Linked DNA regions of Homo sapiens: all the other regions are linked to region 5. The links come from fine-mapping of genetic effects on gene expression. A gene starts in region 5. Each other region holds a variant in brackets. All regions are shown on one strand. Distances are between the middles of the regions.

Region 1 (5,000 bases), 230 kb after region 5:
CTCATGTAATGTTGGGAATGTAAGATATTGTAGCCACGATAGAAAACAGTGTGGCAGTTCATCAAAAAATGAAAAGTAGAATTACTGTATGATCCAACAATTCCTCTTCTGGGTATATGCCAAAAAAATTGAAAGCAGGATCTCAAAAGAATAATTGTACATCCACATTTATAGCAGCATTGTTCACAATAGCCAAAAGGCAGAAGCCCAAGTGTTCATCAGTGGATGCATAAGAAACAAAATGTGGTCTATCCATACAGTGGAATATTATTCACCCTTAAAAAGGAAGGAGATTCTGATACATGTAACACTGTGGATGAACTTTGAAAACATCATGTTAAGTGAAATAAGCCAGAAACCAAAGGACAAATATCATACGACTACACTTATAAGAGGAACTTAGAATAGACAAAGTCACAGAGACAAACTATAGTTGAATTACCAAGGGTGGAGTAGGCAGGAAGGGAGTGGAGAATTATTGTTTAATGGCTACAGAGACTCAGTTTTGGATAATGAGAACATTCTAGAAATTAATAGTAGTGATGGCTGCACAGCATTGCGAATGTACTTCATGCCACTGAAGTGGACACTTAAAAATAGCTAATATGGTAAATTTTATGTTATGTCTATCAAACTTTTAAAGGCACCCTCCACAGATAGTTTTAGTAGTAAGTTTTACCAAACATTATAAAGTTTTACAGGAAAAAAAAAGAAATCTATTCACCTCATTTTACAAGGCTACATTGATCTTGACCTAATACTGGTTTAAAAAACTCATTTGTAAACAAGTACATAAAAATCTGAGGCTGAGCGCAGTGACTCATGCCTGTAATCCCAACACTTTGGAAGGCCGAGGGGGGCGGATCACAAGGTCAGGAGATCGAGACCATCCTGGCTAACACAGTGAAACCCCATCTCTACTAAAAATACAAAAAATTAGCCGGCCGTGGTGGCACGTGCCTGTAGTCCCAGCTACTCGGGAGGCTGAGGCAGGAGAATCACTTAAACCTGGGAGAAAGAGGTTGCAGTGAGCCAAGAGTGCGCCATTGCACTCCAGCCTAGGCAACAGAGTGAGACTCTGTCTAAGAAGAAGAAAAGAAAAAAAAACTCAGAAATAAGATATTTCATCAAGTCAAATTTGGTAGTGTGTTTTTAAAACACACACACACATAACCAAGTGTGGTTTAACCTAAGAATGAAAGGATAAATGAATAGCATTAAGTCTTCTTTTTTCTAATCCATTAATTTTCTTAGTAGTGTTAAAAAGCAGTAGGGAAGATTCAATGCCGAGTAATGATTTAAAAAAAAAAAAAACTCTTCAGAAACCAGGAATAGATAACTTTCTTAACTATGGAGGTTATCTATAAAAAACGTACAACAAATATTGAATGGTGAAAACCTTAGTTTAAGGCTTAAATCATGTACAAGACACACATGAATGCTATTACTCTTCAACAGTGTTCTATGATTCCTAGTCAAGGGAATAAAATAAAAAAAAATTACAAGAATTATACAGGAAGGGACACATTTTGTTTGCATGTCATACAGTTGTCTACATAGAAACATCAAAGAGAGTCAATAAACTGTTACAACTCATTCAGCAAAATTCCTCTTTGTAAGATCCACTCACTGAAATCTTTAGCATTTGTATACCCAATGATAAACAATTATAAAATGTAACAGAAAACATAGTAAATAATAGTGGATTCAAGGCTAGCCATGTAATACAGGTTGAACATTCCTAATTTTAATCTGAAATGCTCCGATATCTTAAACTTTTTGAGTGCCAATCTGTCAACACAAGTGGAAAATTCCACACCTGACCTCATGTGACAGGGCATAGTCAAAGCACAGGTGCACGACACAGTTGATTTAGCGTCCCCAAGGGAAAAAAAAGACCCACCCAGCCCCCTTCAACTATAGTATAACTTTTCCA[T/C]GCACACCCAAATTCCCCCACACAAGCACGCCCACAATGTGTAATAAAATGGCACGTGTGCAGGCTGGACGCACCCAACGCAGATTCCCCACGATACCTCACGTGGGGCCGAGAACTCCATGCATTACTCACTGTGGTTTTTTGCTTATTCTCTGCAGTGTCATGTAAAAATATTACTGAAAATGTCGAAAAGGCCTGCAGATCCCCCTATGTGTAACAGTGATCAGAAAAAGAGGAATAATTTATGTTTATCAATAGCACAAACAGTCAACTTGTTGGAGGAACTGAACAGCAGTATAAGTGTGAAGCGTCTTACAGAAGAGTATGGTGTTGGGATGACCACCATACATGACCTGAAGAAACAGAAGGATACGCTTTTGAAGTTCTATGCTGAATGTGATGAGCAGAAGTTAATGAAAAATAGAAAAACTCTACGTAAAGCTAAAAATGAAGATGTGAATAGTGTATTGAAAAACTAGATCTGAAGGCATCACACTGAACCCGTGCCACTCAGTGGTAGGCTGATCATGAAACAAGCGAAGATCTATCCTGATGAACTGAAAATTGAAGGGAACTGTGAATATTCAACAGGCTGGTTGCAGAAATTTAAGAAATGACATGGAATTCAAGTTTTAAAGCATCTGCAGATCACAAGGCAGCGTCGAAACTCATTGACGAGTTTGCCAAGATTATCGCTAATGAAAATCTGATGCCAGAACAAGTCTGTATTGCTGATGAGACATGACCATTTGGGTGCTACTGCCCCAGAAAGATGCTGACTACAGCTGACGGGACAGCCCCTACAGGAATTAAGGATGCCAAGGACAGAATGACTGTGCAGTGCTGTGCAAATGCAGCAGGCACGCATAAGTGTAAACCTGCTCTCATGGGCAAAAGCTTTTGTCCGTGCTGTTTTCAAAGAGTAAATTTCTTACCAGTCCATTATTATGCTAACAAAAAGGCATAGATCACCAGGGACATCTTTTCTGATCGGTTTTACAAACACTTCGTACAGGCCTCTTGTGCTCGCTGCAGAAAAGTTGGACCGGATGATGACAGCAAGATTTTCTTATGCCTTGACTACTGTTCTGCTCATCCTCCAGCTGAAATTCTCATCAAAGATAATATTGATGCTGTGTACTTTCCCCCAAACGTGACTTCATTAGTTGAGCCTGTAACCAGGGTATCTTTAGATCAATGAAAAGTAAATATAAAAACACTGTCTTGAATTGCACGCTCGCAGCAGTGAACGGAGGTGTAGGTGTAGAAGATTTTCAGGAGCTGAGCATGAAGGATGCCATACATGCTGTTGCCAACGCTTGCAACACAGTGACTAAAGACACAGATGTGCGTGCCTGGCGTGACCTCTGGCCTACGACTGTGTTCAGTGATGATGATGAACCAGGTGGTGGTTTAGAAGAATTCAGCTTGTCAAGTGAGAAGAAAAGGATGTCTGACCTCCAAAAAATATACCTTCAGAGTTCATCAGTCAGCGGGAAGAAGTACACATTAATGTCATTTTTAACATTGATAATGAGGCTCCGGTTGTTCATTTCATTGACTGTTGGGGAAATAGCCAGAATGGTTCTGAATCAAGGTGATCGTGATGATACCGACCATGAAGATGACGTTAACACTGCAGAAAAAGCACCCGTGGACAGCGTGGAGCTCAGGTGTGATGGGTTAACTGAGGCCCAGAGCAGCGTGCATTCACAACAGAACAAGCAATCATGTCAGCTTATAAAATCAAAGAAAGAATCCTAAGACAAAAAAGAAAGAAAAAAAATTAGCCGGGCATGGTGACACGTGACTATAGTCCCAGCTGTGTGGGAGGCTGAGGTAAGAGTCTTGCCTGAGCCCAGGAGTTAGAGGCTGCAGTGAGCCGTGATCATGCCACTGCACACCAGCCTGGGAAACAGCGAGGCCCTGTCTCAAAAAAACCCAAAAAACTAAGTAAATATTTTGTACATGAAACAAACTTTGTGTACACTGAACCAACAGAAAGGAGCTGTCGGTTCTAAGACCATTGTTAGTGGTGCAGATACCATTAAAAAGCCCCCCAGCAGAATGCCTCCTCGTCCCCAGAGGACCCACTTCCTGGGCCTGTAACTGCTTCTTATGTTCCTTCTCACCTAAAATGTAAAATGCCGTGTCCCGTAAGCTTTGAATCAAAGCACAGCATGGTTGGGAGAGCAGAGGCCTGCTGTTGTTTGTTGTTGCTGCTGTTGTTCAGCAGCTGATTGCGGTCTCTGCTGATGCCACTGGCTGCTTAGCTCCCCTGAGCACGTAAGTCTTCACTGTGTTAATGGCATGTCTTATTTTTTACTGTGAAGTACTTATGTGTGAATAAGTGTAAGGAAATGACTGCTTGGTAGTAGCATATAAATTCAGAGTCACGGGCAGGCACGGTGGCTCACGCCTGTAATCCCAGCACTTTGGGAGGCCAAGGCGGGCAGATCACTTGAGGCCAGGAGTTCAACACCAGCCTGGCCAACATGGCAAAACCCCATCTCTACTAAAAATTACAAAAATTAGCCGGGCGTGATGGCACATGCATGTAGTCCCAGCTACTTGGGAGGCTGAGGCAGGGGAATCGCTTGAGCCTGGGAGGTAGAGATTGCAGTGAGCCAAGATTTCACCACTGCACTCCAGCCTGTGTGACAGAGAGACTGTCTCAAAAAAAAAAAAAAAAAAGTCACAGTCAGGAATGAGGGTGATGCCACACAACCACTGATTGTCCACATGGGGGTGAGGGCTGAGATAGTGATACCTCTGCTTTCTGATGGTTCCATGTACACAGACTTTGTTTCATGCACAAAATTTGTTTGTTTATTTTTTGAAACAGAGTTTGGCTCTGTTGCCCAGGCTGGTGTACAGTGCTGCGATCATAGCTCATTGCAGCCTCTAACTCCTGGCCTCAAGCGATCTTCCCACCTCAGCCTCCGTTGTAGCTGGGACTACAGTCATGCTGTCGCACCTGGCAATCACACCAGTCTATGCACAGAACTATTTAAAATACTGTATAAAATTACCTCTAGGCTATGTGTATAAGATGCAGATGAAA
Region 2 (5,000 bases), 35 kb after region 5:
TTATTTTCAGATGATGATGTACCTATTCTCTTATTTGAATCTAATGGTTCATTAATATATACTCCCACAATTGAAATTAATAGTAGGCACCACAGCGCAATGGAGAAGAGATTACAAGAGATGAAGGAGAAAAGGGAAAATCTTTCCCCCACCTGTAAGTAATTAGTTTGTAAAATGAAAATTATGCAAATAGCCGATTCAATTATGGTGGAAAGCTTCTTTTTTCTTTGCCTAGATATTTTAATGTTTCCTGGTAGTAACACATTTTGACTTATTTCATGGCTGGCTTTGTTTTCCAGAAAATCTTATGCATCATTAAGATTTTTGAAGCATATGTTGGGTGTATAGTATTCTTCAAGTTTAAAATCCTATTTGTTGTAGCTCCTTTGTAATTTCTATTATCTTTGGAATTTTTTCTTTCTTTTTTTTTAAAAAAAAATGAATCATGTCTTTTTTTTTTTTTCTGAGATGGAGTTTTGCATTTGTCACCCAGGCTGGAGTGCAGTGGCGCGATCTGGGCTCACTGCAACCTCCCTAGTTCAAGTGATTCTACTGCCTCAGCCTCCCGAGTAGCTGGGATTACAGGCGCCTGTCACCACTCCTGGCTAATTTTTTTTTGTTTTTTTGTATTTTTAGTAGAGACGGGGTTTCACCATGTTGGCCATGCTGGTCTTAAACTCTTAACCTCAGGTGATACACCCGCCTCGGCCTCCCAAACGGCTGGGACTGTAATCCAGGCGTGAGCCACCGCTCCTGGCCGTGAATCATGTCTTTTGAAGGAATTTGCTTTAGATTAATGTATCTAAGGAATCAGTTTGTTTTTCATTATTTCTTTTATCTTTAAAATTTTTAATTACTGAAGTGTAATTCACATTTTAATAAAACATTTATCAAAGTAGCTAATAGTAAAAGTTCATCTTGATACCCATCTAATTGTACTCTTCTACCTGGGGGTAACCTGTATTTTAAGTTTAAGTGTTTTTCCAGATCTGTTTCAGTGTATCAGATATCTGTGTATACATGAAAAAGATACGGGTTTGGTTTCTGTGTGGAGGTGTAATTTCTGTTTTACCTAAATTAGATAATGACATATGTATTATTATCCGCTTTATTTACTTAAGAGTATCCTGGAGGGTTTGTTTGCAGCTTAGTTGTTGTAGACCTATTTTTGTTTTAAGATGCTCAAAGTAGTCTACAGTTTTGATATTGAAAATCTATTGGTGGGTATTTTTTTCCCAGTTATTAGAAATTGTGTTGCAGTTTTTATTCTTTTTTTAACCATATGGTTTGGTTGTTCTTGTTTTTTTGTTAAGCCATTTTCCTTTCTCTAGACATAAGTCTTTCCAGCTTCCCACCCCGACTTTTTACTGTTATAACCCCTGCATGTGCCTACGTGAATCCTTGTATTTCTGAGTACTTCGTGTATTTCAATAATACTAATTCATACATGCAGAATTTGATTTTTTAAAGACATAGAGTCTCCCTGTGTTGCGCAGGCAGGACATGCACTCCTGGGCTCAAGTACTTCTGCCTCACCCTCTCAAGTAGCTAGGAATACAGGTGTGTGCCACGATCCCTGGCTTATTGATAGATATAGTCAAATTATCCTTCAAAAAATTTGAGTCATCTTATTGTCACCAGTTGTTTATAAGAATGCCCCTTTCTCCATACTTGGAAAACTGAATGGCATTAGCCTGTAGCCTTTTTCAGTCGGAAGCTTGAAAAACTGGATCTGTTCTTGAAGTTACTTTTGATTAGAAGCAGGTTTAAGTGCCTTTTCATATTACTGACTGACTTACCGAATGCAGCTTTTAATGTGATCAACTATTACCTCGCTTAATTTTATGTCCTTTGTCCATATGTATCAGTTAAGGTTAGTTTCGGCTGCATATAACAAAGACAAAAACCAATGTGTTACAATCGATAGAATTGCCTTTCTCTGTCTTGCCTAGTTCAGAAGTAGGCAGCCAGGGCTGGGATGCCATTCCATGGTGTCTTTAAGAAACTAGGTTCCCATCTTTCTGTTGTACCTGCCTGGCTTTTCTTGCAAAATGTGTGTGCCTCCCAGCTAAGCCATCTCCTTTTGACAGCCTTACCAGACGTCTATCCAATATTCCTGTCTAATTCCATTGGCTGGAATGTGGTCATATGGCCACCCCTTTTGCAAGCAAGACTGAAATGTAGTCTTGACTGGGATGCATTGCTGTCCTGATAAAATCAAAGTTCTGTTGTTAAGAAGAAGTGAGAATGGACATTGAGGTAGATAACTAGCTGTGTCCCAGGTGGACATCCAAATTGTTTCAGTGTGCAATTATGTGTATAAACTAATTTGCCTTAAACTTTACTTTTTCTATTACTTGGCAGTGTTAATTCTGCTACTTTACTGCGTCCAGTACAGTTTAAAACTTAACTGAAAATTTTATGTGTGCTTCCCTTCCTTATCTTGGTTTATTCT[C/CT]TTTTTTTGCTGAAGTTTTCTCAGAAAAGTATCCTTTTGAGTCTCTAAAAAATATCTTTGGATATAAGATCCAAACATTTCTTTTGTTTCTTGACTATTGTATGAACCGCCTTTGAAGATAATACTTACGATCTTATTTGTTAAGTCATTGACATCCTAAGTGTTTTCTATGAAACCTCTAGGATTTCTCAACCCAGCACAGCTGACATTTGGGTCTGGGTAATTCTTTGTTGGGGGCACTGCCCTGTGTGTGGTAGGAAGCTCAGCAGCATCCCTGCCTCTCCCCACTAACACTAGCAGTGTACCTACTGCTCTCCCTCACTGGCGATATCCAAAAATGTGTCCAGACATTACCAAATATCTGCTGGGACCCCAACGTCACCTCTGGTTGGGAAGCAGTGCTCTAGTTTTAGAGGTAACTATGATGAGCATCCTTGAAGAAAAATCCATGATTATCAAATAAGAAGACTAGAACAGACTGGAAATGTTCACTTAATTCTGTTGAGCTTCTGATTAGATTCAGGCAAGTTGACTTTAAGATCCCTTCTAACTTTGTGATTATAGGATTTAATAGAATCACCTATGATTAATAGGAGGACTTCCTGCTGGCTTCATCTGCTAAGAAATACTGAAACTTTATCTAATGCAGTGTCTTGGTCCTGTTTTTAGCTTCCCAAATGATTCAGCAGTCTCATGATAATCCAAGTAACTCTCTGTGTGAAGCACCTTTGAACATTTCACGTGATACTTTGTGTTCAGGTAAAATTTTTATTTTCCTTTCTGTGATATGTTTAAGTTTTGAGAATAATATGATTTTCTGATTTAGAATTTCATGTAGCAACTTCTGATGAGTAAAATAATTAGTTAAAACTAGAACTTCTAAATTTCCCCCTGAAATTAGGTATTATAATAAAATTAAGGCATGAGTTAAACTTCCTTTTTGGTTCCTATAGGTTTTTTTTCCTAGGCATTTGCTTTCTTGCTACAGAATCCATTGCTCTATTTAAAAAATTATTGTGAACGTATATGAACTAATCTGTATGCAGTTTAAACTACATAGAACTGAGGTCAGAGCTAAGGAAATGTTGTTTCACACAATGTATAATTAACACAAGGAACCTGTTATTGAACGGGGTCAGTGAAGTATGTAAAGATCGTCAATTGAGGAGATAAATAGAGGATTTCTAATTAGAAGCAGAAAGAACACTGGTAGGAATTAGTGCAGTTAGTTCCATGTTACGCACATACATGTTTGTAATGTGGGAGCCCTAGTTCCACTTAGGATGGTAATTTTTCATGGTCATATCTTCTTCGTACCAAATTTCTTACAGTTTCTTCACCTAGTCCCCAGTGGGGCTCAAGTAAGTAGCAGTGATCCCTGAAAGTACTATGTTCAAAAGTGCTTGAGATGTTATGGAAAATTTATCATGAAAGCCACAGCAATGACAAAGCGCAAGATGGCATCAAGATATTAGAAGTTTCAAACAAAGCCTCCTTTCAGCGCAGGGTTAATCCTTGTACTCTCACCTCTGTGTGCTGGAATTATTTACCCATTTCTCTTAAACAGTCTCCATCTTTTTATTTTACACTTGTTACATTTATTTCCTAGAAGTTGGAAACAAGTGATAATAATAGCTAACATTGATTTCATTTTTGTTGTTGTAGGCACTCCTCTAAGTGTCTTATTCACTGTTATCTCATTTATTCTCCCATTAGCCTTAAGAGGTAGGTTCCATCACCATCCCATTTTGCCAGTGAAAAACCAGGACACAGAGGTCAAACAGCTTGTCCAAGGTCATGTGGTTTGTGAATGGCAAACCCAAGCTTCTAACTTAGGCAGTCTGACATCACAGATTACACTCTTAGTGACATGTCACATTGCTTATCGGGTTTTTGAAAAGTGTGATAAAACATAAAACAATTTTAGGTGCTGAATAAGATATATTGAGCATCTAAAATTAAAAGTGACCTTATTTCCAACTACTGCCTTGAAGACACCTGGGGCACAGTTGGAAGGGAAGCTTTGGTGGTTACCTGTGTTCTTCCTTTTTAAAGTAGAACTTCAGTGATTTCAGACAGAGAGTTCTAACACTTACGTGACCTCCAGATTGAGTGATTTCTACAAAACACAGGCCCTCCACCAGCAAGTGCTGAGCCCCTATTGAGGGAGCCAGCACGGGACTAGAGACTTCTTCATATTCATTCCAGTAGCTTATAGCACAGTGACGGGCAGATGCCCACGTAACCATGGGGCAGTATGATGCATGATGGTGTGTAGCAGAGGGGGCAAGGCCAGGGAGAGCTGGCAAGGGCAGTGGGAGGGTCCCAGGGATGTTGACAACCCAGGTGGGTTTGGAAGGATGAATTGTATTTACCCAGAATAAAGTGTGGAGGAAAGGGGAAGGCCCAGAGGGTACAGAGGAGTATAGAATATTTAGGAGGTAGCAGCAGCTTAGCATTACTCTCAGGAAATGAGTAATCCATATAAGAGTTGAAACATTAAAGCCTACCAAATGGCTCACTTTTGAATATCAGTGTAATACGA
Region 3 (5,000 bases), 56 kb after region 5:
TGACTTTATTTTCTTTTTAGTTTTAAATCTGAAGTAGCACTTGCAGGTAATGTCCTATCTGGGCAGCCCTGCAGACAGGACTGTCAGTCGATGAGAGCTGTCAGTCGTGAGTTCTGAGTAATGTGAAGGTGCCAGGTAGAAGGTACAAAGGCAAGAAAGGTGGGAAGGCCTGGAGCCTGTGCGAAGAGCAGCACGGCCTTGGTGTGGCCCGGGGATGGATGCAGAACCGCGAGAAGAGAGAGGCTGACTTCAGCCACGGCCACGGGCTCTGGGGTTAGACTGCTCTCATCTTTGGTTTTCTGTAGGTTCATTGTGATTGTTGTACCAGGGTATTGTTTTTGTTGTTTATTTACTTGAGAGTCACAGGCCGTCCTGTCTTTGATCTGTTCTGGAAACTTCTCCACTGTGATTTCTTTTGCCTGTTTTCTCACGCCTCCATTGCTGGGAACGCAATCTCGTGTGCTATCCTTTGCTTCTATAGCCCATGTCTCATGATTTTCCTCTATTTCTTTCCTCTTGTATCTCCTTATTTCATTCTGGATGTCTTCTATTGGTTTCTTTTCCATTTCACCTTTGACTCTTTTTAAGTCTATTCTGATGCTAAATCCATATACTGAGTTTTAACATGTATTATTTTTCAGTCCCTGCTATTCCATTTATTTTTTTTAATTATTTTTTGTAGAGATGGGGGTCTCTCCACGTTGGCCAGGCTGGTCTCGAACGCCTGGTCTCAAACAATCCTCCTACCTCGTCCTCCCAGGGTACTGGGATTACAGGCGGGAGCCTTCATGCCCTCTATTTGATTTATAAAAACCATTTCCAGTTCTCTGTCAAAATTATTAATCCTATCTTTTATTTATTTGAACATATTATGCATATTTCTTTTGAAATAACTCCCTTTTCTGGCTCCCCTCAATTTCTGTTTTTCTTATCTGTTGTTTTCAATCATACGTTCCATATCTAATATGCCTGGTTAGTTTGTCTTTATCTTCCTAGCAGGGACTGAGATGATCTGGAGCTGGGGTTCTGTCTCTGTGAGGCTAGCTGTCCCCTGGGAGTGTGGGCTTCTGACTCTGGTTCACCTCCTCTTCCATGGGTTTCTTCTTCCATGACTCACTGACTTAGTAGCTGGGCAACGTCTGCAAATAGCTGGGGCTTGTTTGTTTGTTTGCATCTTGTCCAGCTTTTCTGAGGGCTCACAGTGAGGAGCCTATTTCAAACTACTTAGTCCACCATTCCTGGAGACGATGGGTGAATTTTAACGGCCACTTAACTTTTCTAAATAGAGTTTTGGTGTGAATGCTTCTCTGAGAAGACAGCAGTAAGAGGCCAACTCAAGAGAAATGATTTTTGAGATGAACACGTAGGTCAGTTTGCAAAAGACACACTAAACACCTGAATTGACATTAATTCAGTTTCTCTTAAAGAGTGAAAAAAACCATGATTCCATGAAGAATTATAGAATCTCAGAGCTATAACTTCCATTAGCTTTTTTTTTGGTGTAATGCCCATTTTTAATGGCAAAAATCACTCTATAAATCAGTCAGAAAAAGAGTCTGTTTTTTTTTAGACTTATTTTAAATATACTTGTTTCAAATTTGTTGAGACTTTTTTTTTTTTTTTTTTGAGATGGAGTCTCGCTCTGTTGTCCAGGCTGAAGTGCAGTGGCCCAGTCTTGGCTCACTGCAACCTCCACCCCACCAGGTTCAAGTGATTCTTGTGTCTCAACCTCCTGAGTAGCTGGGATTATAGGTACCTGCCACCATGCCCAGCTAATTTTTCTATTTTTTTTTTTTTTAATTAGTAGAGACAGGGTTTTGCCATGTTGGCCAGGCTGGTTTTGAACTCCTGACCTCAAGTGATGTGCCCGCCTCAGCCTCCCAAAGTGCTGGGATTACAGGCGTGAGCCACCACACCCGGCCTGGTGAGACTTTATTTGGAGGATCCAGTTAAGCAGTTTTATTACCTCTGTAATCTTAGCTTGCAGCATGTAGGTCATTGACATTGATAGTTATACATCTTTTCAGAGGGAGAAATAGAAAATATTATGACGAATTTTGACCTGTTTTCTTTGTTACTTGTTGAATATTGTCAGACA[C/G]AGAACCCAAAGAAGCTATGTATAGATACCAGCACTCTGGTAGAAATACACGAATGTAATTTTTTTTTCTCCAAGTATTTGGTTTATTCTACTACTTCTGGATTTGGTTTTTCAAAATATTGATTATTATCCTCAGGAACATTTTTAATGTGAGTTATCAACAGGATAGCTTTTTGTAAGTGGCTCAGTTGTAGAATCTCATTTTGGAGCCATCTCTGCCAATCCAGCTTGTTGCATGTGAAGGCAAGCTGTGGGTCAGAGCACAGAAATGTTTACAGAGGCTTTCCTAAGCCTGGAGGCCTGGAGAGATGTGAAGGAACAAATAGAGCATACTTATTTTGATAGTGGTTTAAAAAAATTAAAGAATTACACACCACATAGAATGCTTAAATTCCTGAAAGTTTCTCAAATAGGGTGCAAAACAAATAATAGCTTGCATATGCTGATAGTTGCTTGTTCTTACATCTTTGCTAGAATATGAGCCCATAAGGACATAGTCTATATCCTGTTAGTCTCTTAATACTCAGCAGGATATAGCATCACAAACAAAATAAGTGCTCAGTAAATATTTTCTGAGTAAATAAGAGATGCATTAATTTCCCTTTTACTTTTTCAGTGAACATGTTTAAAACATTTTTGGTGCTCTTAACCATCACTCAGTAATGATGGAATCATCATCATGTACTTCACTTATTTTTGAATATTCTTCCAAAACTTGAGAGACTGTCTTCTTTCAGTAAAAGATGGATTCTCTTCTCCAAGGCTGTGCATGGCAGCGCAGTGTTGCTAAAGCATTGCCCCCAGAGCCAGATGCCTGGGTTCAGTCCCATCTCTGTTACTCACCTGCTCTGTGGGTTCCATGGTGTTGAACAAATTACTTAATATCTGTGCCTATACTTCTTTGTGTATAAAACAGGAATAATAATAATAGTACCAGTCTCCTCAAAGGGTTTGTGCTAATTAATTGAGTTGAAACATGCAAAGAGTTTAAGATAGTACCTCATATATAGAAGTGCTCAAAAAATGTTAGCTATTTTCTTCAGCACCAGCTTGGGTGAGGGTCATGTCTGCATATTGACTGTGCTTTGTTCTGCAGCTATAACTTGGAGTAGGTCTCTCTTACCTGCCTCCTCTTTGCCCACTCCCAGAGACCACCATGTGTCTTTAATGAAAATGACCCTCAAAACTCTGGGACAGTCCACACTGTGTTTCTTGTTGGACTTACTGACCACAGGCATGCCAGAGCCAAAATAGAGTCTTGGGCAGGGGGTGAGTATAGGAGTATAGCCTTTTCTAAAAGCTCCTTCAGTGATTCTGAGCTGATGGTCATCCTCCCATTGAGAACCTTTGTTTTGGGGGTGAGATGTAGGCCATTAGCATGAAATTGTGCTCTGTCATCTCCCCCAGGAGGCAGAAGACTGAGTTCTGCGGTCAGAAATGCCCGCTTGGGGGATCTGCTTCCTCAGTTTTCGAGAGATGCTTTCCTCATCTCCAGTATCATTAGAACCTTCCTGAAAGAACTGAGATCTTTGTGAGCTGCGATAGGGTACTCACAGCTGTCATTTATTGAGCATTGTGACCTCTTTTTAGATTGAGTTTTCTATTTCTCAGTCATATGGAAAGCTGAAAAGAAAGTATATTTCAGAGAGCTCTAATCATGTCTTTATTGCGGAGGCAGTAGATTGGGAATTACAGCTCATTTGGGTGTAGCATCCCCAGAGAAGGAGCCTTGCAGTGGAAAGAAGATAAAAGGGTCCCAGTGGTGGGAATAAAAAGAGTACTAGATGCCCAGAGGGTGGGAAAGGCCTAGCCCAGATGCAGTGTGGCCAGGCCAGCTAGGGGCAGGAGGAAAGAGAGCTGCAGGGACACAGATGCCTTCCTGAGCAGAGAAAATAGAATACTTGAGCCAATTTTCATGTAAAATGGATTATTTTCCTGGCGTTTCCTGTCCTTCAAGTAAAAGGTTCTGGAATGAGTACTTCACTGCTGTAATGGAGACACTAATATTTTATGAATGCAGTTTTACAGTTTGCAGTAATGCCAGGCCTTTGGCTGTTTTCCATTAGATGGTGCACTTGGCTGGAAGCATATACTCTTGTAGCTTTGATTTTAAATTTAACTTTCAAGTTGAAAGAGCAGTGACTCATCCAAAGGACAGGTGATATTTATTTATTTTTTCTTGAAAATGCAGCACGGGTATGTTGTTATCACACGTTTAGGGGAATTGCCACACTTCCTCGAGGATGACACCCTTTGTAAATATCCATGTAAATCATTTCCATTGTTCAGACCCGCTGTACGCAGAAAGATAGGCCCTTTAGTGCCGACCAGCCGGCCAGTGAGCTCTGTAAGATCGAAGGTGCCCTTGGTTTCCAACACAGCTGTTTCAGTGATCTGTAATTGCTTTGATAAATCACTTTTGGCAGAGTGTACCCAGAGCTGGCAGTGGCGGGGATGTGCTCGTTGTAACAGGTGTGGGGTCCATCAGCAGATGTTGCTTGATGAAGCCATTTAAAAAACAGCTGCCTCTTGATAGCCTAACAGTTGCTTTCAGCCCCCATTAGCACGTTGTTTTTTTCTTGTTATGTATGAGAGAAAATATTTCTACAGAAAACATTAAATAGGATCTTCAAAGAACTCCATCTTTTTAAAAATGTGTTTTATTTGTTCACTAACTGATTTTGCATGCATTGTAAATGTGTGGTTCAGAAATTGTCAAATGTGTTTTGGACTGGACGTGGTAGAAATGAGGACCAGCCAGGGTGGATCTCCTGTGCCTCAGTGGTCGTCTTTGGCCACGTAAAGGTAGAGGCCACCGACGGAGGACATTTCCCACTGGGAGACCCACAGGCGCTAAGAGAGGAGCTAGCCGAAGAAGTCTATTTAAGATCTGCTGCTTTGG
Region 4 (5,178 bases), 240 kb after region 5:
AAAAATTAGCTCAACGTGGACTATATCAGGGTTTCTCAACATCAGCAGTGTTGGCGTTTGCTGGGGTGGATAATTCTTTCCTGTGGAGAGCTGTCCTGTGCACTGTAGAATGTTTAGCTGCATCCTGGCCTCTGCCTATTAGATGCCAGTGGCATCCCTCCCCTGACACACACCTAGTTTTGACAATCTCTGTCTCCAGATATTCCCAAATGTGCCCTGGAGAGCAAAACTGTTTCCAGTTGAGAACCATTGACCTAATGTAAAAAATAAAATGTACAGAAGAAAGCATAGCAGGAAATCATTCTGACCTCAGGTTAGGCAAAGCTTTCTTAGATATGACACTAAAGGCATAATTCATTAAAAAAATAAGTTGGGCTTTGTCAAAATTTTAAGTTTTGCTCTTCTGAAGAAACCATTAAAAAAAAATGAAAAGACAAGCCACAGACTATGAAAAAATACTTGCAAATCATATATCTGATAAAGGACTTGTACCCAGACCATGTAAAGAACTCATAACTCATTAATAAAAGGATAAAGAAAAAGCTGAAGACAATTCATGCAAGAAGATATACAAATATTAAGCACATTAAAATGCTCAATATTATTAGTCACTAGGGAAATACAAATTAAAGGCCCAATGAAATACCTATTACACACCCATTAGAATGACTGTAAACAACAAGACTGATAATTCCAACATCTGACCAAGATATGGAGAAACTAGAACTCTCCTACATTGCTGGCATGAGTGCAAAATGATACAGCCACTTTGAAACACCATTTGGCAGTTGCTTAAAAAATTGAACATTCAACTACCATATGACCCAGCAATTTCACTCTCAGGTATATAACCAAAATACATGAAAACATGGATCTGCACAAGGTCTTGTATACAAATGTTCATAGCAACATTATTCATAATAACCAAAAATTAGCCCATCAACTGAAAAGTAGATAAACAAAATGTATATCCACACCATGGAACGCTACTCAGCAAACTTCTAAAAAGCAACAAACTACTAAACACGTGCAACAACATGAATGAGCCTCAGAAACATAAGTGAAAGAGGTCAGACACAAAAGACTACAAATTGTAAGATTCCATTTAGATACCATTTCTACAAACCGCAAAACTGTAGAGGCACGAAACAGATTCATGGTCTGCTGCAGCTGGGGATGGGAGTGGGAACAGAGAGCAAACATTTTGGGATGATGGAAACATTCTAAAACTGGATTGTGATTTTGGTTACACAACTGTATACATTTACTAAAATCAATGAACAGAACACTTTTAATGGGTAAGCCTTAAGGCATGTGAATTATACACCAATAAAGCTATTTTTTTTAAAAAAAAGAGAGAGAGAGAACGAGAGCTACATGGCAGCCCCAGGGCAATAGCTCTCAGATCTCCCTTAGAGAAAGAACTTTCTCTTCCACAGCAATGAGTGCAGGTAGCTAACACTGACCAACCTGCATCTGGTAGTTCATTTAAGGTCGGCCTTGGCTTTCAAGTTAAGGCCATGGTCTTTCTCTGCAGTCCCCAGCCAATACGTGGGCACAGAAAGGCACAGGGCATGGCTGATTCAGCCCAACATGAGGCTCCACACCCTAGAACTCCCTGTGGAGTTGGCCGATACTGCCTGTGACCTGCAATGTGGTCTAAGCTGTCAGACCTCCACAGTGGCCAGAAGGTTTTCCATACCTGAGCCTGCTTCTACCCACTTTTATTTTTCCCAGGAGTCACGCTTAGTCATCTCTTGCTCTTTGAACTCCATGTCTGTATCAGCTACCCAGAGGACCCATCAGACAGAAAGTAATATGCAGATAACAGCCCAGGGGAATCTGGGCAGCACTGTGAAACCAACATTTCTTCAGTGAAACCTAGAACAAAAGTGGAATAAATAA[AAACT/A]AACTGTCTCATTTCAGCACTGGCAGTCTCACTCTGGAATCTGTGTTCATGCTACCCAGGCCTATACTACAAGCTCGTTCAGCCATAACAGGGCAACTGTGAGGCTGTTGGATGGGATGATGTTGGAAGTAAATGCTCAGTGCTGCCAAGTGAAAATAGCACTCAGGCAGAAGTCTTCTCACCAAGGCAATTTACTTTTATAGAAGGGTGCATCTCGCGGATGGAACAATGGCGAGAGCACACTGGACAAGGGAGGGGAAGGGGGCCTTATTTCTAATGCAGCTAGCCCTACTGCTATATCTTTCCCCCACTGACTAGGGTTGGACCGCACAGTCTAAGCTAATTCCAATTGGCTATTTTAAAGACAGCAGAGGTACAAGCCACACTGGCAGGACAGTTACAGAACAGGTGACTAAGGATGACTAAGGACAGAACAGGTGACTAAGGATGACGAAGGACAGAACAGGTGATTAAGGACAGAGCAAGTGACTAAGGTTGACTAAGGACAGAGCAGGTGACTAAGGACAGAACAGGTGACTAAGGATGACTAAGGACAGAACAGGTGAGTAAGGACAGAACAGGTGACTAAGGATGACTAAGGATAGAACAGGTGACTAAGGGTGACTAAGGATAGAACAGGTGACTAAGGGTGACTAAGTACAGAGCGGGTGACTAAGTACAGACCAGGTGACTAAGAATGACTAAGGACAGAGCAGGTGACTAAGTACAGAACAGGTGACTAAGGGTGACTAAGTACAGAGTGGGTGACTAAGTACAGAGCAGGTGACTAAGGATGACTAAGGACAGAGCAGATGACTAAGTACAGAACAGGTGACTAAGTACAGAACAGGTGACTGAGGATGAATAAGGACAGAACAGGTGACTAAGGGTGACTAAGGACAGAGCAGGTGACTAAGGACAGGTGACTACGGATGACTAAGGACAGAACAGGAGACTATGGATGACTAAGGACAGAGCAGGTGACTAAGGACAGAACAGTGACTATGGATGACTAAGGACAGAACAGGTGACTACGTATGACTTAGGACAGAACAGGTGACTAAGGACAGAACAGGTGACTAAGGACAGAGCAGGTGATAGAGGCTAGGAGCGGGCTGTTTACTGAAACTAGGGGTAAAGAGATGTAAAGAATGAGAAAGTTAAACTTTAAAATGGAGAACAAAGAACAGGGAAGCTGAATATACTGACACATTGGTTCTTTGGAGAGGAACTCAGAACTCAGCGTACTTAACAATTTTCTCCCTCTTGAATTTTAAAAGACATTAACAGGCTAAACTTCGAAGAGGAATTTATTGTTTCCTACAGATGACAATTAATAATCAATCTTGCAATGTTTACTGAGGTCACTATCCTCAGTGCTATACGTGTTCTGTGTCCCATAGACTTCAGGGTAACTACATGGTCCTTAAACTTACAATCTAAAGTATTTCCATGAGACCTTCCTTAATAGACGTTTGTTCTCAGCCTTCTTTCAATAGCAACATCCTTTGTTCACATGAGGATGCATAAAGAAATACAATACGTAAAAACATGTTATCAGGACCGCTCTCATTAAGCTGGGTAGGGGGTGGTCACACGAGGGTTTCAGATCCTCACCCAAGGATCTCATCTTTCTCTGCACAAGGGTAGGCTGCACAGCGCCTTTGTAGATACTTCCGAGATTGCTTGAAAACTGCCGGTCTGGCCCAGTCCCTCCTATCACTGACAAAGAAGCTGAGATCTCGAAAGACACGCCACCCATGAGCAGTAACTCAGTGCAAAGAATCTAAATACCAGAACTCCTGACCCACAAGGCTTTCTCTGTGCATCCAAGATGTCCCAAACTGAAATGGTCTATGCACGACAGAGAACTTTGATCACACTCAGAAAACGTCTTTGAAAATGAAACATGGCACATTGCAGAGATGTCACAAATGAGACTTCCCTTGATGGTCCCTGAGAGCGTCTTTGTGTTCCATGTAGCTGCTCCCATTATTTTGGGCAGACATTGACAGTCTTTGATGAAACATTTTTCACCTTGAGTTACAGTAAATGTTATCATCTCATGTTTTTGGAAATGCCATTCAAGGACTTGAGAGATCATTTCTAGATAATTGTTTATAACCATGCCCCTTATAATTTCATTTGAGATTATATGAGAAAAATCTAAGCATACCTATTTAATAAAGGATTTGGACAACTGCATCTCAAACTTTAATACAAATTCAAATCACCTGGGGATATTGTTAACTGGCAGATTCTACTTCAGCACATCTGGGGCCAGAAAGGCTGCGTTTCTCTCCCCTCCCCTCCCCTCCCCTCCTCTCCCCTCTCCTCTCCTCTCCTCCTTCCTTCTCTCTCTCCTCCTTCCTTCTGTCTCTTCTCTGTCTTCTCTCTCTCTTCTTTCTTTCAAGATGGGTCTCCCTCTGTCACCCGGCTGGAGTACAGTGGCACACTCATGGCTCACTGCAAAGGCTGGATTCTAACAAGCTATCCGGTGATGTGGATGCAGTTTCAGAAGCAGGGAGTTAGAATACGCAATGGGATATTATAAATGTACATTTCATTTACTTCTGCACAAGATGTAATGTCTTGTTAAACCAAACTGCTATTTTTTTTTTTTTGAGACAGAGTCTCACTCTGTCACCCAAGATGGAGTGCAGTGGCCCAATATCGGCTCACTGCAACCTCCGCCTCCCGGGTTCACGCCATTCTCTTGCCTCATGAGGTCAGGAGATTGAGACCAAATTGCTATTTCTTACAGTGTTGCAAATACCTTGTGAGATTCTTATCAAGGTATTGGAGAATAACTAGGGCACTGATTATGAGAACATCAGAATTGTCAGAGGCGTCCTAACTAGGGTGACTCCATCCTGAATAAAGCCTGGATAGAGCCAAACCTGATGGGGGACATTCCCTGAGGGATGATCACTCTCAGTCACAGGATGTTTATAGTTGAGGGAACGAGTTAATGATGCTGACTACCTACCTAAAGAACCAGAACTTACAGAAATGTCCCAGTATTTGAAGAACAAACAGCATTGTTAGTTTAAGAACAGGGTTCGTTTTAGAGATAACAGCACATTCATAAATTCTTGCTGAAATCAATAGTTGCACAAGAAAATAACAGTATTAATAGCCTGTCGTAAGCTGATCACAAATCTTTGTAATATATTACACTCTTCTAAGCCAACAAAGATCAAAACAGACAAAGAAGGGCATTACATAATGGTAAAGGGATCAATTCAACAAGAAGAGCTAACTATCCT
Region 5 (5,198 bases):
TCATGTGTACTTGTAGTCCCAGCTACTCAGGAGGTTGAGGTGGGAGGATAGCTTGATCCCAGGAGGGTCGAGGCTTCAAGATGAGCCATGATCACACCATTGCACTTCAGCCTGGGAGACAGAGTGAGATCCTGTCTCAAAAAAAAAAAAAAAAAAAAAAGAAGAAAAAAAGAAAAACAAAATAAAAAAACAAATACTTAGGTTAAAATCTAACAACAGTTATATTTTTTTTTTTTGAGATGGAGTCTCGCTCTGTTGCCCCAGGTGGAGTGCAGTGGCAAGATCTCTGCTCACTGCAAGCTCTGTCTCCCGGGTTCATGCCATTCTCCTGCCTCAGCCTTCCAAGTAGCTGGGGCTACAGGCGCATGCCACCACGCCCGGCTAATTTTTTGTATTTTTAGTAGAGATGGGGTTTCACTGTGTTAGCCAGGATGGTCTCAATCTCCTGACCTTGTGATCGGCCCGCCTTGGCCTCCCAAAGTGGCAGGCGTGAGCCACTGCGTCTGGCCAGAGAAATTTTAAAAGACCTAAATGTTAATGGGTCAGAAGATTCAATATGGTTAAAATGTCAATTCTCCCCAAATTCATCTGTAGAGTCAACACAATCTCAATCAAAATCCCAGCAGTATTTTTTTGTGCAAAATGAGAAGTCGACTCTAAGATTTAAAAGGAAATCTGAAGAATCTAGAAGATACAAAATAACCTTGAAAAATAAAGTTGTAGGACATAAACTATCTGATTTCATCACTTATTTATATAGCTACAATAATCAAAACAGCATGGTGCTGGCAGCAAAAAGACAAATAGCTCAATGGAACACAATAGGAAGCCTAAAATGAAACACATACATATGCAACACAGATTTTGATGTAAGCACAAAGGAAATGCAGTAGAGACAAAAATAACTTTTTAATAAATGATGCTGGAACATTTGGATATGTATACATGCAAAAAAATGAACTTTGGTCCCTATCCCATACCGTATACAAAAATTAATTAAAAGCAGATCTTATCCTTTGAGTCCAGTAGGTTGAGGCTGCAGTGAGCTGTGATTACACCACTGCATTCCAGCCTGGGCAACGGAGTGAGAAACTGCCTGGAGAAAAAAAAAAAAAAAAGTAGAACCTAGACCTGATATACAACCTAAAGCAGTAATATTTCTAGAAGAAATCCTAGGAGAAAATATTTGTGATCGTGGAGATGAAGAATCTATCAAATACTAAACTTTTTTTACCACCTTGACCAAAAGTAATTGGTTTATATACTTCATCATATCATTTAATTCAAAATCTACAGAGATCAATGTCACTTTCTCAGTAAAAGTACGTGAGTCTTCAATGATGCCCTGAACTCACACTCCCAAGTAAACCATAACACCATATTTCCAGAGTAGAGTTTATTAGAACAATAACTGGTGATAATGATAAATATTGATCAAAGACTGAGCCTAGGAAGTGGGTTTTTTGAGGCTGCATATACTCAAGGCAATTCTTCAGAACCACAGAGGGCTCATTGGATCCTATTAAAAGCTGAGAGTGAATGAATAAACAGATAAAACAGAGACCTGAGTAGACGGTAGTCGATATTCTTTTACATGTATTCTACCTCTAGATTCCATAGAAAGAACTAAAAGTACATGAATTTCACTACCAACATCTCCATCAGTTACCAGCTGTATCACCTTGGATCAGTCAGGTAACCTCCCGCGAATCTGGTTGCTTCCGGGGCAGGGGATCCGCGGGCTGCAGGTTTGAGCCTGGTTGCCGGCAGGGTGGAGCAGCTGGAGGGCCAAGCCTTTGAGCTCCAGGGGGGGTGGCCGGGACAGTGGGTAGTGCCAGCCGATCGGCGTCCTGGGGATTGCCTGAATGTGAGGTCTGGGTTCACCCCGCGGTGACCTGAGTCCTGGGATGCCCCTACAGGGATTTGCTGCCTCAGGGATCCGAAGTCTCTTTCATTCCCTTACTGGGGATTTGAGGTCTGGAGGTACTCCTGCGGGGGTCTGAGATCTCGGGGTCACCCTGTGGGGGTCTGAAGCCTCGGGGTCCCCGCGTGGGGTCTGAGGTATCAGAGTCCCCTCCGTTGGGTCTGAGGTCTCGGGGTCCCCCATCCCCGGGATCGGAGGTCCGGCTCCCCGGAGCAGGCAGGGCGGTGCGTCTGGCCCTGAACAGTAACGTGGCGCGCCAGCCCCAGGTGGTGTCGGGCTAGGGGGGCATAACGGTGCCGAAAGTCCGCACAAAGCCGTCCGCTGGGGTCCCGCCGCGTCCGCGAGGGAATGACTGTGCCCCCTCCCCTTCCTGATCCTCAGCTCAGGTGAGCCCAGATGAGGCGCCGGGTAGCTTCTAAGTCACTAATGGAAATAGAAGGCTAATTCAGGGGTTAGGGGCCGTCGTCCTCCTTACTCCCAGGAGAAGAGAAAAACCCACGGCCCAGCAGCCAGAGGCGCGGCGAGGCGGAATCGGGCCCCCTCCCCGGGGGCTCAGCTCCCTCCAGCCTCCCGCCTCACCTACAGAGAAATCCCGGAAACGCGGATTCAGCGGAGCGCGGTGACGGCGGCGCGCTCACCCCGCGCATGCCCAGTGCCCGCGCGCGCCGCCAGGCTCGCAAGCACCGCGTAGGCCAGCTGGCCGGATCCCGCCGTCTGTCATGGCGGCCCCCATCCTGAAAGGTGAGGTACTTCCTGCTGCCTGCTCCAGCAGCGGGAGTTTGAGGACCGGCACCCCTCGTCGCGGGCGCACTCGGGGGATCCCGTGGGAGGAGCCCCGCTCGCCCCTCCCTCGCTGCCTGTCTCCCCCAGACCCCCTGCCGCCTCCTTCCTCCCCCGCTGCCTGTCCCACCAAAACCCCCTGCTCCTGCTCTCTCCCCCGCTGCCTGTCCCCCCAAAACCCCCGGCTGCCTGCTTCGTCTCCCGTGCTCCCTGTCCCCCCAAACCCCCGACTGCCTGCTTCCTCCCCCGTACTGCTTGTGCCCCAACCCCCGTGCTGCTAGTTCCCCTCAATCCCCCGCTGCCTGCTCCCTCCCCCATGCTGCCTGTCCCCCAAATCCCGCCTTTCCCCCTACCTGCTTTCACCCCTGCTGCCTTAGTCCCTGGATCTGGGGCTCACTGGCAGGCAGAGTCCTGCCCTCCGGAAGTTGGTGTGGGGCCCTCCTGGGTCTGGTCCTGTTCGACCCCCTCTGAGGCCCACCTGGAGGAGCGGCAGTTGAGTTTCTATGCTAATTGTTCCAATAATAGGAGCCGCCTTTTACTGCGGAGTCTTTGTGTGCCAGGCGCTGTGCTTAGGCTAGTATGGTATTGTCTGATTTTTTTAACCGCTCTATCAACTCTCTTATATCATTTTACAGGCAGAAACTAAGGCATCGGACGTTTAGGTGACTCTCCCTGTGTGTGGCTAGTCAGTGCTGACAGGGCCTTAGACCGGAGCTGCTGTCCTAACCAGTATATGATACCGCACGCAGTCCCACCCTCTGTGCACCTGGAAGAGCCCAGGAGAGGGGAATAGCGGACACGTGTCTTGTAGAGTTTGACCGTGAGAAAAAAGGGGCCTGTATTGTGGGGCCTGGAGTCATAAAACCTCATAGCCAAAAGTAAAGACTAGAGGCTTTATACAAAGTCTGTAATCAGATGTGGCTATTTTTCTAATGTTAGTATTTTGTTAAATTAACCTGGTTTTCTTTTAGCGTTACCCCCAATCATTGACCAACGGCACACCTGGAAAATGCTTTTAAACATCAGGTTTTGAGAAGAGGATATCCACTAGAACAGGGGTCCACTCACTATGCCCCCCAGGCCATATCTAGCCTGCTGCCTGTTTTTGTAAGGGTCTACGAGCTAAGAATGTCTTTTACATTTTTAAGTGATTTTAAAAAAAGGTCAAATGAAAAATTATATCACATTCACATTTCCTTCTCCATAAATAAAGTTTTATTGGAACACAGGCCGGCCCGTTAATATATTACCTATGGTTATGTTTGTGCCACAACCGTGAAGTTGAGTAGTTGTGGCAAATACTGTATTGGCCACAAAGCCTGAAATATTTACCATCTGTCTCTTTACAGAAAATAGGTTTCTGCACTGGAAAAATTAAGCGTAAGAATTTGGGGAAAGCAACTAATTTTACAAATGTAAACTCTCATGTATTGTATGGGTACAGTTGTTCTTTGCTTAAAATTTTAATAAATTCCACTGAAGCTATTTTGAAAAGGCTTTCAGTAGAAATTTATTTATGAGACAGAGTCTTACTCTCTTGCCCAGGCTGGAGCGCAGTGATGTGATCACATAATAGCTCAAGCAATTCTGCTTCAGCCTCCTGAGTAACTTGGGACTACAGGCACTACCACGCCCGGTTATTTTTATTTTTATTTTTTAATTTATTATTTTTTTGTAGAGCCAGGGTCTCACTATGTTGCCTAGGCTGGTCTTGAATTCCTAGCCTCAAGCAATCCTCCCGCCTCCACCTTGCAAAATGCTGGGATTACAGGCATGAGCTACTTTGTTCAGCCAGTAGAAGAAACTTCATTTACTTTTCTTATTTTTGAGGCAAGGTCTTTCTCTGCTGCCCAGGCTGGAGTGCAATGGTGCGATCATAACTCAGCTTCTACCTCCTGGGCTCTAGGGATTCTCCCACCTCAGCTTCTCCACCCTACCCACCCCCATTTCCCACCCAGTAGCTGGGACTACAGCCACTCGCCACCATTCCTGGCTAATTAAAAACAAAATTTTTTTTAGAGACAGGGTTTCACTATGTTGCCCAGGCTGGTCTCAAACTTCTGTGCCCAAGTGATCCCACTGCCTTGGCCTTCCAGAGTGCTGCAATTACAGCATGAGCCACCACACCTGGCCAGTAGAGTAAATTTTTGTTTTACTTTTTTCTTTTTTTTTTTTTGAAACGGGTCTCGCCCTGTCACCCAGGCTGGAGTGCAATGGCGCAATCTCGGCTCACTGCAACCTCTGCCTCCCGGGTTCAAGTGATTCTCCTGCCTCAGCCTCCCAGTAGCTGGGATTACAGGTGCCCGCCACCATGCTCGGCTAATTTTTTGTATCTTTTAGTAGAGATGGTTTTTCACCATGTTGGCCCGGCTGGTCTCAAACCCCTGACTTCGTGGATCCACCCACTTCCGCCTCCCACAGTGCTGGGATTACAGGCGTGAGCCACTGTGCCGGCCTCGGTTTACTCTTAAATGTAAATAGAACAAAATCTATT

What was found. PIP is the estimated chance that this variant, and not a neighbour inherited with it, causes the effect.
Region 1: its variant is the best candidate, but not a certain one, in a credible set for the expression of MCPH1 in prefrontal cortex (ROSMAP, PIP 0.71).
Region 2: its variant is the best candidate, but not a certain one, in a credible set for the expression of MCPH1 in whole blood (INTERVAL, PIP 0.85).
Region 3: its variant is the best candidate, but not a certain one, in a credible set for the expression of MCPH1 in cerebellar hemisphere (GTEx, PIP 0.60).
Region 4: its variant is the best candidate, but not a certain one, in a credible set for the expression of MCPH1 in whole blood (TOPMed, PIP 0.80).

The regions. Positions count from the first base shown.
Region 1 is chr8:6,631,724-6,636,723 of GRCh38, forward strand. All of the region lies in intron 13 of MCPH1 (microcephalin 1), which reads left to right. All of the region lies in intron 1 of MCPH1-AS1 (MCPH1 antisense RNA 1), which reads right to left. Among named protein-coding and RNA genes, the nearest start is that of MIR8055, 12 kb to the left of the region's middle. The variant T/C (reference allele first, on the strand shown) is at 1,937.
Region 2 is chr8:6,438,943-6,443,942 of GRCh38, forward strand. MCPH1 (microcephalin 1) reads left to right here. Exons shown (of 14, transcript NM_024596.5): 6 at 11-154; 7 at 3,125-3,214. Among named protein-coding and RNA genes, the nearest start is that of MCPH1, 35 kb to the left of the region's middle. The variant C/CT (reference allele first, on the strand shown) is at 2,456.
Region 3 is chr8:6,459,718-6,464,717 of GRCh38, forward strand. The region is part of intron 9 of MCPH1 (microcephalin 1); the gene reads left to right. Among named protein-coding and RNA genes, the nearest start is that of MCPH1, 56 kb to the left of the region's middle. The variant C/G (reference allele first, on the strand shown) is at 2,099.
Region 4 is chr8:6,646,581-6,651,758 of GRCh38, forward strand. It overlaps MCPH1 (microcephalin 1), which reads left to right. Exons shown (of 14, transcript NM_024596.5): 14 at 1-1,928. All of the region lies in intron 1 of MCPH1-AS1 (MCPH1 antisense RNA 1), which reads right to left. Among named protein-coding and RNA genes, the nearest start is that of MIR8055, 27 kb to the left of the region's middle. RefSeq lists an enhancer at 1,562-2,761. The variant AAACT/A (reference allele first, on the strand shown) is at 1,906.
Region 5 is chr8:6,404,025-6,409,222 of GRCh38, forward strand. It overlaps MCPH1 (microcephalin 1), which reads left to right and starts at 2,603. Exons shown (of 14, transcript NM_024596.5): 1 at 2,603-2,665. The coding sequence starts at 2,644. It overlaps MCPH1-DT (MCPH1 divergent transcript), which reads right to left and starts at 2,524. Exons shown (of 2, transcript NR_040040.1): 1 at 1,682-2,524; 2 at 1-1,096. RefSeq lists silencers at 2,345-2,424, 2,685-2,864.